Regions from separate parts of the Homo sapiens genome. Here region 2 is linked to region 1. The links come from fine-mapping of genetic effects on gene expression. A gene starts in region 1. The other region holds a variant in brackets. All regions are shown on one strand. Distances are between the middles of the regions. Region 1 holds the start of AHCYL2 (adenosylhomocysteinase like 2). Region 2 holds the start of LOC107986847 (a long non-coding RNA gene).

Evidence for each region. PIP is the estimated chance that this variant, and not a neighbour inherited with it, causes the effect. A credible set is the group of variants that fine-mapping cannot tell apart.
Region 2: its variant is the best candidate, but not a certain one, in a credible set for the expression of AHCYL2 in whole blood (INTERVAL, PIP 0.76).

The regions. Positions count from the first base shown.
Region 1 is chr7:129,221,291-129,230,166 of GRCh38, forward strand. AHCYL2 (adenosylhomocysteinase like 2) reads left to right here and starts at 3,740. Exons shown (of 17, transcript NM_015328.4): 1 at 3,740-4,149. The coding sequence starts at 3,787. RefSeq lists silencers at 718-1,012, 3,634-3,703, 3,824-4,073 and an enhancer at 3,244-3,353.
Region 2 is chr7:129,370,434-129,379,309 of GRCh38, forward strand. The region is part of intron 1 of AHCYL2 (adenosylhomocysteinase like 2); the gene reads left to right. It overlaps LOC107986847 (a long non-coding RNA gene), which reads right to left and starts at 7,245. Exons shown (of 3, transcript XR_007060518.1): 1 at 7,097-7,245; 2 at 960-2,658. RefSeq lists enhancers at 4,821-5,381, 5,382-5,941. The variant A/G (reference allele first, on the strand shown) is at 4,103.

The DNA of each region.
Region 1 (8,876 bases):
TCACCATGTTAGTCAGGCTGGTCTCAAACTCCTGACCTCGTGATTTGCCCGCCTTGGCCTCCCAAGTGCTGGGATTTCAGGTGTGAGCCACCGTGCCTGGCCAAGAAATTCTTCTTTATTGGCCGGGCGCGGTGGCTCAGGCTTGTAATCCCAGCAGTTTGGGAGGCCAAGGCGGGCAGATCACGAGGTCAGGAGATTGAGACCATCCTGGCTAACATGGTGAAACCCCGTCTCTACTAAAAATACAAAAAATTATCCGGGTGTGGTGACACGTGCCTGTAGTCCCAGCTACTCGGGAGGCTGAGGCAGGAGAATTGCTTGAACCCAGGAGGCAGAGGTTGCAGTGAGCCGAGATCATGCCACTGCACTCTAGTCTGGGCGATGGCACGAGACTCCATCTCAAAAAAAAAAAAAGAAAAAGAAAAAAAGAAATTCTTTTTTATACCAATGTCCTGCATGGACGTTACATTCCTGCTTGCCAGCGTTCTGGAAGCTGAATGAGCCGGGTGAAGGAAGAAGACCTGTAGTCCAAATATTTCATTAAATAGTTCATAAACTGGTGCTTAATTACCCTGTTTCTAGTATGTAATTTGATCTTCAACTGTACCTGGTGTCCCTCAGCTACAAGGATGGCAGAAGCAGCAGGTATGTAGGGATGGAGTTGACAACAGGTTGAAGAATGTGTCCTGATGGTTGGCCCCAATCAGTGGTGGTGACTGGAATAAAACAGGGTATCAGTTTCATTCCAGTGCTCTAACTCCTTATATTTTATAACCACATCACACTGAAGAATTAATTCATCCTCTCAGTAATCAATTCTAGTGGCAGGTAGGCAGCTGCTGCCTATGAGCTCCAACACATGCCAGGTGGCTGTACCGTAGCTCCCTTGAGCATTAGGGGGAAGAATGAAATCAGTTACAGAGCTGCTAATCTCTGCTCCGACAGCTGGAGGATGAAGCTCTGGGCTGGTTTCTTTTTAACAGGAAGGAAATTCTGAAAGCCGGAATGTGAAGAAAAAACTTAAGAATCTCTTGTGTCTTGTGAGCTCTGTGGAAATGGCAGTGCTCAGATGCCTTCCGACATGTACTGTGAGGCACAAATTTGGAGATCAGGAAATGAGAGCCTCCATTCAAGGCAGGACAACCACACAGAGTGAACAGATTTCCAAAATAGTAGGACAGGAAAGAAGATCGAGGCAGGTGATTTCTCTCCCTTCTCCTTCTTTTTTTTTGAGACAGAGTCTTGCTCTGTTGCCCAGGCTGGAGTGTAGTGGTGCAATCTCGGCTCACTGCAACCTCCACCTCCTGCGTTCAAAGGATTCTCCTGCCTCAGCCTCCTGAGTAGCTGGAACTACAGGCAGAAGCCACCACGCCTGGCTAATTTTTGTATTTTTATTAGAGATGGGGTTTCACCACGTTGGCCAGGCTGGTCTCGAACTGCTGACCTCAAGTGATCCACCCGCCTCGGCCTCCCAAAGTGTTGGGATTACAGGTGTGAGCCACCATGCCTGGCCTCCTTCCTTCTCCTTGCCAGGCAAAACACAGTGACACCAAAGACTAGATGTCTAAAGAGTAGCTGTCCAGTGGCTGCCTGGGTTGTTAGGGCTGTAAGTCTCTGAAACAGCTGTAAACTGTATGAACCCCTTTGCTCCTGTTTCTCTGAGCATAGAGAGGAACCCCCCCCATAATCTGTCGCGAGTCAACTGCATTTTGTTTTTTTAAAGTATTCTTTTTTTTTTTTTTTTTTTTACGAGACGGAGTCTTGCTCCGTCGCCCAGGCTGGAGTGCAGTGGGGCGATCTCTGCTCACTGCAAGCTCTGCCTCCTGGGTTCACGCCATTCTCCTGCCTCAGCCTCCCGAGTAGCTGGGACTACAGGCGCCCGCCACCACGCCCGGCTTATTTTTGTATTTTTAGTAGAGACGGGGTTTCACCGTGTTAGTCAGGATGGTCTCGATCTCCTCACCTCGTGATCTGCCTGCCTCGGCCTCCCAAAGTGCTGGGATTACAGGCTTTTTAAAGTATTCTTTACATAAAATCTTATGGCATGTGCAATTTTGTCTCTTGCTTCTTAGCTTAATGTTTTTATCATAAGCATTTATTCTGAAAGCCAGAATGCCTTGATCTTCTTTCCTGTGCTATTACGATTTTGGAAATCTTCACTTCGTGAAGTTGTCCTGCCTTGGAGTCTCTCATTTCCTGATCGCCAAATTTGTGCCTCACACTATGTATCGGAAGGCGTCTGAGCACTGCCATTTCCACAGAGCTCACAAGTGTACCAGACACAAGAGTTTCTTAGCTTCCTCTTCACATTTTGGCTTTCAGAGTAAAGAATGAAAAAGGGAAAACCTTGTTGTTAAAAAGTATTGGCAAACAATTTTCTTTCTTTCTTCCTTTTTTTCTGGGACGGCATCTCACTCCGTTGTCCAGGCTGGAGTGCCGTGGCATGATCTTGGCTCACTGCAGCCTCTGCCTCCCAGGTTCAAGCGATCCTCCTGCCTCAGCCTCCCAAGTAGCTGGGATTTCAGGTGCCCGCCACCACGCCTGGCTAATTTTTGTATTTTTAGTAGAGATGGGGTTTCACCATGTTGGCCAGGCTGGTCTTGAAGTCCTGATCTCAAGTGATCTGCCGGCCTTGGCCTCCCAAAGTGCTGGGATTACAGACGTCAACCACTATGCCCAGCTGGCAAACGATTTTCAAAGGCTGTAACAATTGCTCTATTTGTTGGACATTAGTTTTAGACAGTTTTTTGTTATTAAAAAGGACGCTGCGGTGCATGTCTTTTTGCTTACATCCTCTAAATGTAAAATTTAAAAATAATACAGAAAAGTACAAAGTAAAAATCACCTTAAATCCCATCACTTAGGAAATTAACTACTCATATTCACTATTCATATCCCTCTATGCTGATATATGTATCTGAATTTCAGATGATTGCCCTATTAGAATTATAGGTGAAAAGATTTGGCCTCGTTTAAGGCAACGTGTAATTCCTCAGCCTTGAATTTTGATCTAGTGATACCTAACTTCTTTGAGGAATGATCTTAGCTTCCAAACCCAGAATGTGACAGAAAGCGCCACAGCAAGCAAGGTCCTACTTTATCCCTTCTAAAAACAAAGCCACTGAAGTTTGGAAGGGTGTTGAGTTCTCAATATCACAAAGAAAAATAAAGCCACTTCCAGCCTGGAGCCGCCGCTTCTCCTTTAAATACTCGCTCACGTGATCGCAGACGGGCACGCGCGGAGGAACTTCACGCTGTCAGGACAACGAGCCATTCCTCTACCACTTCCCCTCCCCTAAGGCTTCTTGGCGTTCCCTCCCCGGAAGTCACAACTCCTCTGGAGACTTTCTCTTCCTCATCCCCTCCGTCGAGTCACCTATCCTCACTCCTTTCTGTTAGCTGCCGGCCCTAGCGCTCCCTCTCCTCGGCTGAATCTCACTTAGTGGAGGAAAGGCTGAAAGGACTACAACTCCCAGGGGACGCTGCGGGCCCCGCCCATGGGGCGCGCAGTGTAGGTCGGGGCCTGAGGTCCCACGGTCTTCTCGCCGCGTGCGGCCGGGAGCAAACGCACTACAGGTTCCGTGGCGCCTCGCGCGAGGCCAGACCGGGACGGGGCGGGGCGGGGCTGGAGGGGCCGGGACTGGCGGGCGGAGAAAGGGGGTGGGAGAGGAGGCGATGGAGGGGAGGAGTGGGGACATGGGGGAGGGAAGAGGAAGGGAGGTGGGAGGCGGGGCCGACCAAGAGCAGGAGCTGGAGTCTGAGCCGGTGGTTGCAGCGGAGGCGGTGATGTCGGTGCAGGTTGTGTCAGCCGCGGCTGCCGCCAAGGTGCCTGAGGTGGAGCTGAAGGACCTGAGCCCCTCCGAGGCGGAGTCGCAACTAGGACTGAGCACGGCCGCCGTGGGCGCCATGGCCCCCCCGGCGGGCGGTGGAGACCCTGAGGCTCCAGCTCCCGCCGCGGAGCGGCCCCCGGTCCCCGGCCCGGGCTCGGGGCCCGCCGCCGCTCTCAGCCCCGCCGCCGGGAAGGTGCCTCAGGCGTCGGCCATGAAGCGGAGCGACCCACATCACCAGCACCAGCGGCACCGCGACGGCGGCGAGGCCCTGGTCAGCCCCGACGGCACCGTCACCGAGGCGCCGCGCACAGTCAAGAAGGTACTGGGGCCGGGCTGCCTCTCTAGGAGAGGAAGGGAGGGGAGGGGAACTGCAGATCCTCTCGGCACGGCGGCACCACCCTCCACGCCCTCCTTTCTGATCGCAGGACCGGAGATACCCCTTGTCCCCTTAAACCCACTCTCTCAGAGATGCCCCCCAGCCGGCCCCTCGTGCTGGGAGCGGAGACTCCAGGAGGCACGGCCGTACTTCGCTCTGAATAACATGGAGGTAGCGCTCTCCCCTACTACTTGGAATAGGCAGCGGGAGGAGAGACACCTAATAGTACGTCCCGCGGCCCCAACACGCTCCCGGGTGTGATTTTCCAGCCTATCGGGGAAGAGACCTCGATAGTATAGAAAAACCTTACCGCTCACGGGAGTTCACACAGCAATAAGGATGAAAAGATCTTTAATACTTGGAGAACGAGTAAGGTGTAGTCACCTTGCATAGAAATCGTCAGAGTTGTCTGGTTTCCATACAGTTGATGACTTTCTGCCTTTCTGTGGCCAACCGTGGCCATACAGCAACACGATGCTGTGCCCTTCATTTCCAGCGACTGCGATATTCTCTCTTCCCTGAATATGTAAAAGGGTAATGGAGAGATTCTCCTCACTCTTTCGTGTTAAGAGCTTTGTCCTCCCTGCTGGGTATAGTTGGTCACCAGGATTATTAGGCTGTGTATGAAGAGAATGAATGTCTTATTGATTGCTTTATTATAATCTGAAAGTGATAGGAAGAAATGCTGCTACTTTTGGGAAAGACGATCTTTGTGGGGTTTTCGGTCTTAGGCGTCAGCTTCTTTCAGACAGTTTTGAGGAGGTCTCAGAATACCAAGAAGTAACTGCCTAGGTGGATGATAGCCCTGTATTACCCGTACATTGTCTATCCATAGTTGTCTGTCTCTCTCAAAGCTTGTCTTTCTTTCTCTCTTAAAGCTGAATCAGCACAGAAAAACAGGGCAAGTATTGGAAAAGACAGAAGTGTGGATCATATAAAAAGGGCTTACAGCTTCAATTTCGTAGACACAGTATGGGCACAGGGATTAATGTTTTTTTTAAATTGTTGTGAATGGTTTTTAATTGCTTTATCAGAACAGCAACAAAGAGACGGGAAGTGTGCATTGGTTTTACTGTGTGGGACCAGCTGAATTGGAACCTTGGATCCACCATAACTTTTTGTTGTCATAGCGTCATGATTAAGGTATAGCGGATAATCCTTTCATCCTAACGATACAAATTTAGGTGATAAGTCAGAGGCAAGACTGAAGGAATTTCTGTAATGCTTTAGACAATGTCTTTGTCGTTTGTAGTATGAAACTCCTCTGGGAAGAATTAGAGTAGAAAGAGGCAGCATCCTGCAGAAATGGGTTTAAAGAAAAAAAGTAAAGTAAAAAAGAGAGGCAGCAGCAGCACCAGTGCTGGGAGTACCTAGATCTGAGTCTGGAAATCCAAAGCATACTTCTGACTTGTTGAGATACTTTGTATCGTTAAGTCATTTTCTTGTGATAAAGACTGTTTTTGTCTAAACTTTGTAATTTGGTTAGATTTCTTTAGGCTAAAAGTGTTTAACAAATTGCTTTTAGAGCATGAAGTTTACAGTCAGGCAGACCTGGATTTGAAGCCTAGTACCCCCATTACTACCTTTTGGGTAATTTCCAAATTACACAAATCAGTTTCCTCTTCTATAAAATGAAAGTACTAATTATGATTGAGGATTAGAAATATTTGTAAAAGGTTTAGCATTGAGCTTGGCACATAAAGTCTTAAATGATATTCTTACTAATGCTTTTATTATTATGAATAATTGATTTTATTTTATTCCTCCCATCATGGCTTAAGTGCAAGCCCCCATGACCACCTCTGAAAGTTACACACAGTTCAATATATTCTATATAAAGAAATTAAAAAATCATGGCTCACGTCTGTAATCCCAGCACTTTGGGAAACCACGGCTGGTGGATTGCTCGAGTCCAGGAGTTTGAGAACAGTCCGGGCAACATGGTGAAAACCTCTCTCTCCAAAAAAAAAAAAAAAAAAAAGAGCCGGGCATGGTGGTGTGTGCCTATAGTCCCAGCTACTCAGGAGGCCGGGGTGGGAGGATCACCTGAGCCCAGGAAGTTGAGGCTGCAATGAGCACTCTAGCCTGGGTGCTGGAGTGAGACCTTGTCTCAAAAAAAAAAAAAAAAAAAAAAAAGTTAAAAAATCAAAGACCAGCATACTGGAGTCTGTTTTTCTTAATTCTAGATGTGCTTCTTGACCACTTTCCTTGTCGTTGAACCATCTTCCTGTTTTTTCAGCACCAAATGTATGTTCCATGATTGTAGATATACTCAGCAGCCTCAAGGCTATTGTAAAGCAGGGCTGAGCTTGCCTTACAATGTTAATTGCACCAAAAAAACAACTTCTCTGCTGAAAGTTAAGCAGGTGAAGCTCTGGGCAAGGATACAGCTGGATGACGAAATTCAGGGCATTGCTGAGCTGCTTTTCAGGTGCCCAATCTTTAACCTTCTTGATATTGAATTGGCTAAATCAAAATAAGTGCCCAAGACTGCCCTTTCCCTAAGTTGAAAGTCATCTCACCAAGGAACTGCAGTGTGACATTTTGATTTGTTGAGCCTTTGTTGATTCTTAGATTGTCTATGTAAATAACCACTTTGACCTTGACTCCTTACTGTTTTTCTTATAGCATATGAAGGAACTGAGAATACTAGTATTGAAATAGCTGCCTTTGGCTGTGGAACTGGTGACTGTTGCATTTGTTTTTTAACTTTCATGTATAAACATTTATTTTAAGTCACATTTCCATAGATGGTTTTCCTTACTTCATTCACATATCATCAGTTTTCTTAGTTTTGTTACTCTGCTCAGCCACACAAGGGGAATAAACTTTTTACAAGAGCCAGAATTCCCAAGTGCAGTAGTTAATAAGAAGGAACATATGGTGTGCAGGTTACTCAATCACATCTTATCTTTGGCACCTGCCTCCGTCCTGTAACTTGCGATGCTCTGGGGGCCAGATCATGTTATGTGGCTATGATATATTTAATTATAGTGTCCTTTTTCATAAGTTGACATCAAGTGAACCCAGCAAGCCAAAAATCTCTATAAGAAGTAATTTGGGAAATGGGAAGGTAAGTTCCACAGGGAATGAGGTAGTACTAGCTGAAAGGGATTTCTTCCTTGTGTTCTTGAAAATGAGTGATAGGAGTGTTGGCGCACAGCAGGGAAAACAAGGCAGGAGAGGATTTATTTCAGAAATATTAAAACTTTCTGACAATAAGGCTGCAAGCCCAAGAACCTCAACTAGATTGTGCTTACATCAGTATCAGTAATGACCGTGTTCAAACAGACCCTTTATTGCTTTTGGCAAACATATCCACCTTCCACTGGCTTTGTTGCTGTCAGGAGAGAATGAGTTGAGCCATGTTAGCACTTCTTGTCCTGAATTGTTTAAGCTCTTGATTTGGTTAATTATAGAGTACTAAAATGGAATGTTTTGGATAAAGACATGGGAATGTGGTAGCAGTATGACTCCTTTTGCCTGTTACAAGAGTACTGCTCTGAAAAGTGTTCAGTAAGGCAATTGGCAGTTGGTCTGTAATAATAGTTACCAATAATTAGCCTTTTTTTTTTTTTTTTTTTTTTTGAGACAGAGTTTTACTCTTGGTGCCCAGGCTGGAGTGCAATGGTGCAATCTCAGCTCACCGCAACCTCCGCCTCCCGGGTTCAAGCGATTCCCCTGCCTCAGCTTCCTGAGTAGCTGGGATTACAGGCATGCACCACCATGCCCGGCTAATTTTCTATTTTCAGTAGAGATGAAGTTTCTCCATGTTGGTCAGGCTGCTTTCAAACTCCCGACCTCAGGTGACCTGCCTGCCTCGGCCTCCCAAAGTGCTGGGATTACAGATGTGAGCCATTAGCCTTTTATGTGCCAGGAGTTGTCATAGGGGTTCTGTAATCCTCACAACCATACTATGAGATGTAGGTGGCATTATTTCCATTTTATAGATGCAGAAATGAGATCCTGGGAGGTTAAGTGCCTTGCCCAAGGTTATACATCTAGAAAGTGTCAGAGGTAGAACTTAAATCCAGGGCTGTCCGTCTCCAAAGCCCATGTCCTTTTCATTATGCCACAGTGATTCTAACTTCTTAGATGCTGAGTTCTTGCTTTCTCCCAGAGGTCTTTTAGAATACTAAGTGAACTCTAAGGCGTGTCTGTCTGGCTAAGGCTTAGGTCATCCCAAGACCAAAGTAAGGCAGGTCTGAGTTAGAGCTTTAGGAAGAGGATGGGAGAAAATTGTACAAATGTAGAACTTGAAAGAATTGTAAATTTAGAAGAGGAGAATAAAAGCATCTTATACAGAAAAGCATTTCAAGATCAATGATGCAGCTTCACACTGGTAATTTACTGATAATCTGAGAAATTTATCCATATTTTAAAAGTTATAAATAAATTTGGAGTACCTGAGGAATATACCCTTTCTTCCTGTTCAGCTAACACTTTTTCCCTATTCTTTAAGCCTCACCATCTCTATGAGTCAATCTTTGATAAGAGCTTTTGAAAATTGCAAAGGGAAGAATATTCCTACTGTATACCAGGCATTGTACTTAGAGCTTTACATATACTGTTTTATTTAATTCTTTTTTTTTTTTTTTTTTTTTTTGAGACCAAGTCTCGCTCTGTCACCCAAGCTGGAGTGCAGTGGCGATCTCGGCTCACTGAAACCT
Region 2 (8,876 bases), 150 kb after region 1:
CGCCTGTAATCCCAGCACTTTGGGGGAGGCCAGGGCGGGCAGATCACGAGGTCAGGAGATCAAGATCATCCTGGCTAACACAGTGAAACCCGGTCTCTACTAAAAATACAAAAAATTAGCCGGGCGTGGTGGCGGGCGCCTATAGTCCCAGCTACTCTGGAGGCTGAGGCAGGAGAATAGCATGAACCCGGGAGGCAGAGCTTACAGTGAGCTGAGATCGCGCCACTGCACTCCAGCCTGGGCGACAGGGTGAGACTCCGTCTCAAAACAAACAAACAAAATAATAATTTAGAAAAGCACAGCTCTGCTCTGTTCTGTTTTTAATAAGGTATTACTCTCACTTAGGAATTTCTCAGCCATTCTCTCTTAAATAGCAGGAAAATACCTTTGCTCAGTATTTTGAACAGCAATAAAAAGGAATAGGGAGGAGCTAGTCTTCAATAACACGATTGTCTCATTTGCTAGCTTTTCTTTGCCAAAGACTTTTGAGGCTTTCTTTCAGATACCACGTAAGTCATTGACTCCTGACTTGGTCTGAAAGTACTTCATTAGGTTGCTACTGATAGCCACTTAGCCAAGAAAGCTAACCTCTGAGCACCCTCTAGTGTATTGCCGATGGATTTCCAGACCTTACTTGTAAAATGTTAAAGTGTCTTTTAATCCCCAAGAAAAAAACCGTTGCTCCAGCTCCCATGTTGGGCCAAAGTTTCAATTTAAAGTTTTAACGAGTGTCTTACTCATGTTCCCATTTACATATTAGTGTAATGAAATTTCCACTGAAACTATCCCTGCCACCAAAGGAAATATGAGAAGTCTCTCAAATCTTCTTTCAGGAGAAAAATTTAGCAGAGAAGGTATATTACAACATCTCCCTTTTGTTAAAAATCACCAGCAAAAAGGGACTTCATATCCCTCAGAGAATAGGACTCACACCACATATAACAGCTGACAGTACTCACATCTCTGATTTCCAGCAGGGAAATAAGCCGGGATGAAGCCTGAAGAACCCCAATCTCAAGAACTGACGAGGTAGACTTTCAAGGTTACGTTCCATCAATCACTGGAAAACTTCTCCTGGAGCCTCTGCTCCTCAGCTGTTTTCATGTGAAGGATTTTCTTAGCCCTGTTCAGACAGCTTTACTGCTGAAAGGTTGGGGAACACTTCCTTTTAAAGACTGTCTTTATTAATGTGTTTTACTTCCCCTGAGAGATCTTTAGTCCCTTCTGGTAGTAACCTCGACTGACATGCATGGAGATCAGCAATAACTTTTTCTGTGTTTCAACATTTTAATATTTCCTCCTCCTCCCACTCCAGCTCTCTGTACTTTTCCATAGGAAATCTGGTTGATTGACTTTCATGAGTATCCAGCCAGCTTGATGCCCGATATTCTTTTGGCAAGAAGTAATCCTTTTCATAGGTAAAGAGTTAGTTCAAGCCGCTCATTTGGCTTGGAAGAGAGAGGTGTTTTGAGGAATATCTGAACCATATCTACTTGGAAGTAGAGACAAAAATCTCCAAAGTGTCTGATAAATGGTGGTAGAGGTAGCTTGACTATCACTCTAGGTCAGGATTGGTGCTTAAAACAGAAAGCCATTTGAAAAACTGATGAAAACTATGGGCTCTCTCCCCAGGATATTAAAAACACAAAATTTTGCATACTGTTGTAGGGGGTTCTAGACATCCATGGAATATAGGTTAAGAACACTTAATTTGAAAGAATAGAAATATTAATATTTTAGACTTGCATATCAATATGTAGTTTTCAAAACCCTCTCACATCTTATTATCTCAGCATACATTTTAAATAGGCAAAGTAGATATGATTATCCCTATTTTAGAAATGATGACAGACCTTAGGAAGTAGAGACACAGATACATCCTTTGTAGTATTACTTTATGTACTTGAAAAGGAATTAATTGGTTTCTCTTGGCCTTGATCCTCTTTAGGATAAATAGATCTTCTGTCCTCCCCATGAGTCCTGTTTTTCTTAATATATTACCTGTCTCTTCTTAAGAGCCTTAAGTTACGGAAAGCAGAATTAGACCCAGTTTTCTTTAGACCCTGTTTTGGGTGTAAAGAAAGATCACCTCAGCTGGGCGTGGTGCCTCATGCCTGTAATCCCAGCACTTTGGGAGGCCAAGGTGGATGGATCACCTGAGGTCAGGAGTTCGAGACCAGCCTGCCCAACATGGCGAAACCCCATCTCTACTAAAAAGTACAAAAAAAAATAAGCCAGGCATGGTTGGTGTGCTCCTGTAATCGCAGCTACTCAGGAGGCTGAGGCAAGAGAATCACTTGAACTCTGAGAGGTGGAGGTTGCAGTGAGCCGAGATGGCACCATTGCACCCCAGCCTGGGAGACAAGAGCAAAACACCATCCCCCCAAAAAAAAGAAAGAAAAGAAAGGATCACCTCATTGTATTCTCTGACCTTTCAAATAACCTTTACTTTTCTGCCTGTGAACGTGCCTCCATGGTTATAGCCATGATAGGATAGAATGGTTGGTTAAGTAGAGTCAAGAGAATCAGGGCTGCTTTACTCACGCTTGGAGAAAGTGTTAGAGCAGTGGTTTCCAAAGTGTGGTCTTCAGACTGGTAGCATCAGCGTCTCCCGGGGAGTTACTCAAAACACAAAATCTTCAACCAGAGAATTGGAAGCTGAAAAAAATTTTTTTTTTTAAATTACAAAATACAAAATCTTGGGCCCTCTCCAGACCTAATAATTCAAAAACTCTGGTGGTTAAGATCCAGCAATGTGCTTTAATAAGCTCTCCAGGTGATTTTGATGCAGCTAAAATTTGAAAGTTACTGTGTTCTATAAAAACTTATTGGCTGTGTGCGGCGGCTCACGCCTGTAATCCCAGCACTTTGGGAGGCCGAGGTGGGCGGATCACGAGGTCAGGAGATCGAGACCAGCCTGGCTAACACGAAGTAAGTGATGGAACTTTTTAAGTTTTTTTTTAGTAGAAACCCTGTCTCTACTAAAAAAAACAAAACAAAACAAAAAAGCAAAAAAACTAGCCAGGCGTGGTGGCATGCGCCTGTAGTCCCAGCTACTCGGGAGACTGAGGCAGGAGAATCACTTGACCCCGGGAGGTGGAGGTTGCAGTGAGCCGAGATCGCGCCACTGCACTCCAGCCTGGGTGACAGACCAAGACTCAGTCTCAAAAAAAAAAACCAAAACAAACAAACAGACAAAACTTGTTAAGTGGTAAGGCTTTTCCTGTCTCCTAAAATGTCTTCTGGTTCTATTTGGTATAGATATGCCAGTCCTTCTGGCTCAAGTTATCTGACTTAAGTCATTGGACCAAGGAGCTCCTTTTTACCTGAGTGAGGGAAAGGGGAACCAGCTTAGTACATGCGGACTGGGGTGAACATTCTTGTTAGGAGGAGCAAAAGTTGAGAGATTCATCAAGCAAGCAAATGATCTGTCTCACTTTGTGAAATTATGAGTAAGAGATCAGAATTGCTGTGGGTGATGGTGAATATTCATATTTGAGTTCAATTAATTTCTGTTTCCATTTCTGGTAGTGACATTGGGCAAAGTTGCCTTAAAGAGCTGTTAGAGTTCTAATTCTTATATAATTAGGTGTTTTAGAATTGTGACTTGATCAGGGCCCCAAGATTATCCGGGATGATGTCATTTCTAAGATGTAATCTGATACGAAAATGAATTTAAAGAGTAATTTTAAATTAAATAAATTTAAAGATAAAAGGAATGATTTGAGGCTAGTACACCTAGGACTAGGACCTTTGGTCTTCTGATTAATATTATGAGGCATGGTATAGTAGATGGAGCTTTGGCTCTAGCATAAACACAGGCTCAAATTCCAGTCCCATCACTTACTTGCTGTGAGACCTTGGACAAATCATTTGTTCTCTTAGAGTTAAACTTTCCTGCTTTGTCAAGTGAGAATAATACTGCCTAATTCTTAAGATTCTTGTACAAATTAATAGAAGTAACATATACACAGAACTGTGAAAATAGGCACTTACCAAACTTTTCTCTTCCAGAGATGTCAATAAGCAGTATGCAATGTGACCTTCTCTCTCTAAATAAAGATTATCCTTAAAAAAAAAAAAAAATCTGCCGGCTGGGTAC[A/G]GTGGCTCATGCCTGTAATCCTAGCACTTTGGGAGGCCGAGGCAGGTGGATCACTTGAGGTCTGGAGTTCAAGACCAGCTGACCAAAATGGTGAAACCCCATGTTTACTAAAAATACAAAAAATTAGCCCGCGTGGTGGCACATGCCTGTAATCCCAGCTACTTGGGAGTCTGAGGTAGGACAATCACTTGAACCCGGAGGGTGGAGGTTGCAGTGAGCCGAGATCGCATCATTGCACTCCAGCCTGGGCAAAAAGAGCAAAACTCCATCTCAAAAAAAAAAAAAAAAAATCTGCCATTTTATGTCCTTTCTTGTGCTCAACAAGCAGTCTTTTTTTTTTTTTTAATTAAGGAAGAATTGACATCACTTTCCCCCCAATCTCTGTAGCAGACAGTTGAGTGTAGCTTTCTTCCTCACTATGTCTCTTTCAGAAATCAGCAAATAAATAATGTGATTCTTTGCCCTTTTGCTTGAATATTTGGCACGTAGTAAGATTGTTGTGATTCGGGGGACTCTGAGGAGATAAGAAACTTCCCTTTGTAGTCGTCCCTTCCATGAACACACATTTTGTGAAAAAAGCAAACTGGGTCACTCTGTGCCAAATCAGCAACAATCTTGAGCTGGGACTAGAAACCAAATGTCAAAACCTGTATAAAAGATGCACAATTCAGAGGAAAGCAGTGAACTGAGAAAATTGATTTCCTTGGTGACAGAGCTGAAATCAGTGTCCCCAGTCTGGCTAATCCAAGGACACAGAGTGTAGGGTAGGGCCTGCCTGAGTACTTGGCACCATTAATTTTTTTTTCTTACTCCTTTAATGAAGTCTCTCATTGTTTAAGTGGCTCTGTGGTTAATTTTTTTCTAATGAGACTAGGTTAACTAAAATCATCTGACATGGAAAAGGAGGAGGTAAGGTTGAAAAGGAACCTAATTAGCAAGTTAATTATAGCGAGCAAAAAAGTGCAGTGGTTATATAAATAAGCTATTGTTATGCGCATGCAAGTTGGGCCTTGTCAAGGGACTTGCAAGGTTTAGAGGTCAGAGGATCCATGTAATTAGGTGTTTAGGAAAAAAACAAGTAAAAGCAAAACAGCCACTAGAATTAGGAATGGCTGTTGAGCCACTAACAGAAATGCCTTATTAAATTGGGGCTGTACTGCTGAAGGGGTTGTTGGAGCTGCTTCAGGGATTCCAAGGAAGAGTAGTCCCCCACTCCCCAGCCCAAAAAGCTGGCTGGAACCAGAGCCAACAGAATTGCTGATGAGGAAAGTTTAAAGGCCTGATCACAAGGGTCCCTGGACCACAGAGGTGGCAGTGGGGCTGGTAATGTCACTATGCTGGGCAGCAAGAAGAAATACATTGTTAATGGCAACTCTGGGATTAAGGCCCAGGTGAGGCTAAGCTCTTATTTACCAGTCTTGCCGCTGCTATAGCCATTATTGTAAAAGGCCGACTGCTTATACTCTTTTTCCCCTCCTTTCCTGCTTTCATCCCTCCCTCTGGCATAAGGTGAGCTACCCCTCTTTTAACAGTCTCTTTCCCTCCCTTGCCTTAATGCCTGTTGGAATTAGGCAGTTCTCTCTCAAATGGAAAAGGAGGATTACCTTAAAAGACCCTGGTTCCAGACAAGGTAGGAAAGTTAGGGGTAGAATCTACTAAGGTACCACAATTGGGGTGGGCAGATTACAAAACCAATCCATTACAAAATGGACTGTATATTGGTGTTTAATTATTAAGAGGAGGTAAACACCAGGGAGCCACTTAACTCATGTTCTGGTCGTCAGAGAAAGATACTCGTTTCTTGCGGAAAATTGCATAACTTATATTTAAGTGGTTAATCTCACTCTAATATTTTTCTGTCTTAAAGAAACTTGAATTCGGTGTCTAACCAGTAAGCAAGGTTTTAGAACCCTATGTTCTAAGTGGAGAAAGCCTTGTACAACCTAGTCTTCTTTAGTATTAAAAGATAGCATGAACTTGTCCCAGGAAGGAGGGATTGCTGTAAATAGAAAACACTATAGAGAAGACAGCTCAGCTCAGATAAACTGGTTTGAGATGATAATGCAGCTAGATAGCTATATGGTTTATTCACCTTGAGCCTACAATCTAGAGTATAAGAGTGACTGGCCCCCTCTAGTGGTGTGTGTACATGGTGTGTGTGCATATGCACCCACATGTACATGTACGCAGGTGTGTGGTTGTGTTGGGGTTGTGTTGAGCATCTGAAACACGGTTTATCTATTCTTCTTTAAAGGGGACACTGGAAAAGTTCCATTATTATTCCTTTTCCTGGATGGGCTTCTAAAAAAGAATAAAGACATGTGACTGTTTTGAACAAGGTTGGTGAAACGGAAGCCAGAGTTTGCATCCTGACTGCTGTCCACCTCCCCAGCTTTCCACCTTCCCTCTTCTTCCCAGCTCTTTTTGCCCTTAAAAATCATTTTAACTTTAGACTTGGTTTATGTTTGCCATATTTAGTGAGTATTCAAACAAGTATAGACAGTGAAGATAGAATAGGCTACTTCAGATATATTGATTCAGCACTTGATTGAGTGCCTAGGATTTGTGCCTGCAGATATAAGGGTGAATAAGAATCACAGCTTCTCCCTTTATGAGCCTATAGTTTATAGAGAATACCGGTAAGTAGACAGATAGTTACATTCATTGTGGTAAGTGCTGTGCTAGGAGAAATGCAATACATGAAAGTTCATGTACGTCCTATGGGAGTACATAGAAAGGGCACTTTATCTTTTTGGAATAAATTGCTAGTTGAGCAAAATAATCATCTTTGTCATTTTTTTTAGTTCATGAAGAACTTCTTATCCGATGAGTTTTCCTATTGCTGAAAACAATTTGCAAGCCCTAAAGCACTCTGTAGGCTTTATTTGTTGTTATAGCTATGAAAATGCTATGAATCCCCCTAAAAGGCAATGTGAAGCTATTTCAATTTGGCATTGGTCCCTTGTCGCAATACTCAAGTGACTCATTAGTTACCTCTAACTGCAGGAAGTGGAGCCGTCAGTTCCTGCTTTCATTCTGGTGTACTGTATGTTCTGCCCATCAAGGAACCATCTTTTTATCATTAAAGGTAGAGTCACTTGTCAGACCTTTGATCATTTTCATTAGACCTTCCTCTATGCCACCTTGGATCCAGAATAGGCAATTATACAAACAGAGAAAACAAAAAAGTTATTAGTTCAATAAATTGTATGAGCTTTTTTTCCCCAAACAAGTATAGCTTACAAGTGACCTTTGATTTGTAGAGTATTATAAAGTATCAGCTGGAACCTCCAACAATAGGAGAAAGATAAAATTGTAAGAAAATCATTATCAAATAATCATCCAAAATGCAATGTCCAGAGTATGATATGAGGCTTATACATATTCATTCAATTAATCTGCTCCTTCTACATCTATTATAGTTAATGATCAATCTTACTGCTTTTAGGTATTTTATAATATCAAATATTTAAAAATAAATTAATATTTACTTACTAGCCAGGCGTGGTGGCTCACGCCTGTAATCCCAGCACTTTGGGAGGCCAAGGCAGGTGGATCACAAGGTCAAGAGATTGAGACCGTCCTGGCCAACATGGTGAAACCCCGTCTCTACTAAAAATACAAAAATTAGCTGGGCATGGTGGCACACACCTGTACTCCCAGCTACTTGGGAGGCTGAGGCAGGAGAATTGCTTGAACCCAGGAGGTGGAGGTTGCAGTGAGCCGAGATCAAGCCACTGCACTCCAGCCTGGCTACAGAGTGAGACTCCATCTAAAAAAAAAAAAATAAATTTACTTACTAGTACTGGAAAGCTAACTAATATATTTTAAAAAGCTTTAACAAATTAGAGTGGCTACCTGCAAGAGTTACGAGAGCATTGAACCGTAGGGGTTGGGTAGGGAGTAGATTTATTGAATTTCCTGCTATGTTTCAATTTACACACATTGTCTCATTGAACCCTCTCTAAAACCTGTGAGGTAAGTACTTTTATCTCTGTTGTATTTATGGAAAAATGAGACTCACTAAAGCATCTTGAGCAACATTACACAGCTAATGAGTGGCATAGCCAGAATTTAAATGCAATTTCAGAATGTTCATTCTTAATGAAAAGGCTTTTTAAAAATTATTAAATCATTACCATTTCCTGAGATTCTTGAAACCTGAATGCAAGTGATTTTGCCTTCCTGTACCTTGCAATTTTCTCATCTAGATATGTGGAGCTTACAAATATGATAATCTCAAATATTCTTTCTTGTACCTTGCAATTTTCTCATCTAGATATATGGAGCTTACAAATATGATAATCTGAAATATTCTTTCCAGTTTTACTTTTCAGTGAAACTGTATAAAATATTTCTGAATATGACTCAATTTTCTAAAAATTTAACCAGAATATCCCATTCTCTATTTGTGGGGAGTGGGGTGTCACAATTTTATTGTAAAAAGCATATAGTCAAAGAGTAGCCAGGCACACTGGCTCATGCCTATAATCCCAGCACTTTGGGAGGCCAAGGTGGGTGAATCACTTGAGGTCAGGAGTTCGAGACCAGCCTGGCCAACATGGTGAAATGCTGTCTCTACTAAAAATATAAAAATTAGCAGGTCATTGTGGTGTGTGCCTGTAATCCCAGCTACCAGGAGGCTGAGGCATGAGAATCACTTGAACCCAGAAGGTGGAGGTTGCAGTGAGCCGAGATCGTGCCACCGCACTGCAGCCTGGGTGACAGAGTAAAAGTCCATCTCAAAAAAAAAAAAAAAAAGTGTATCAAAGAT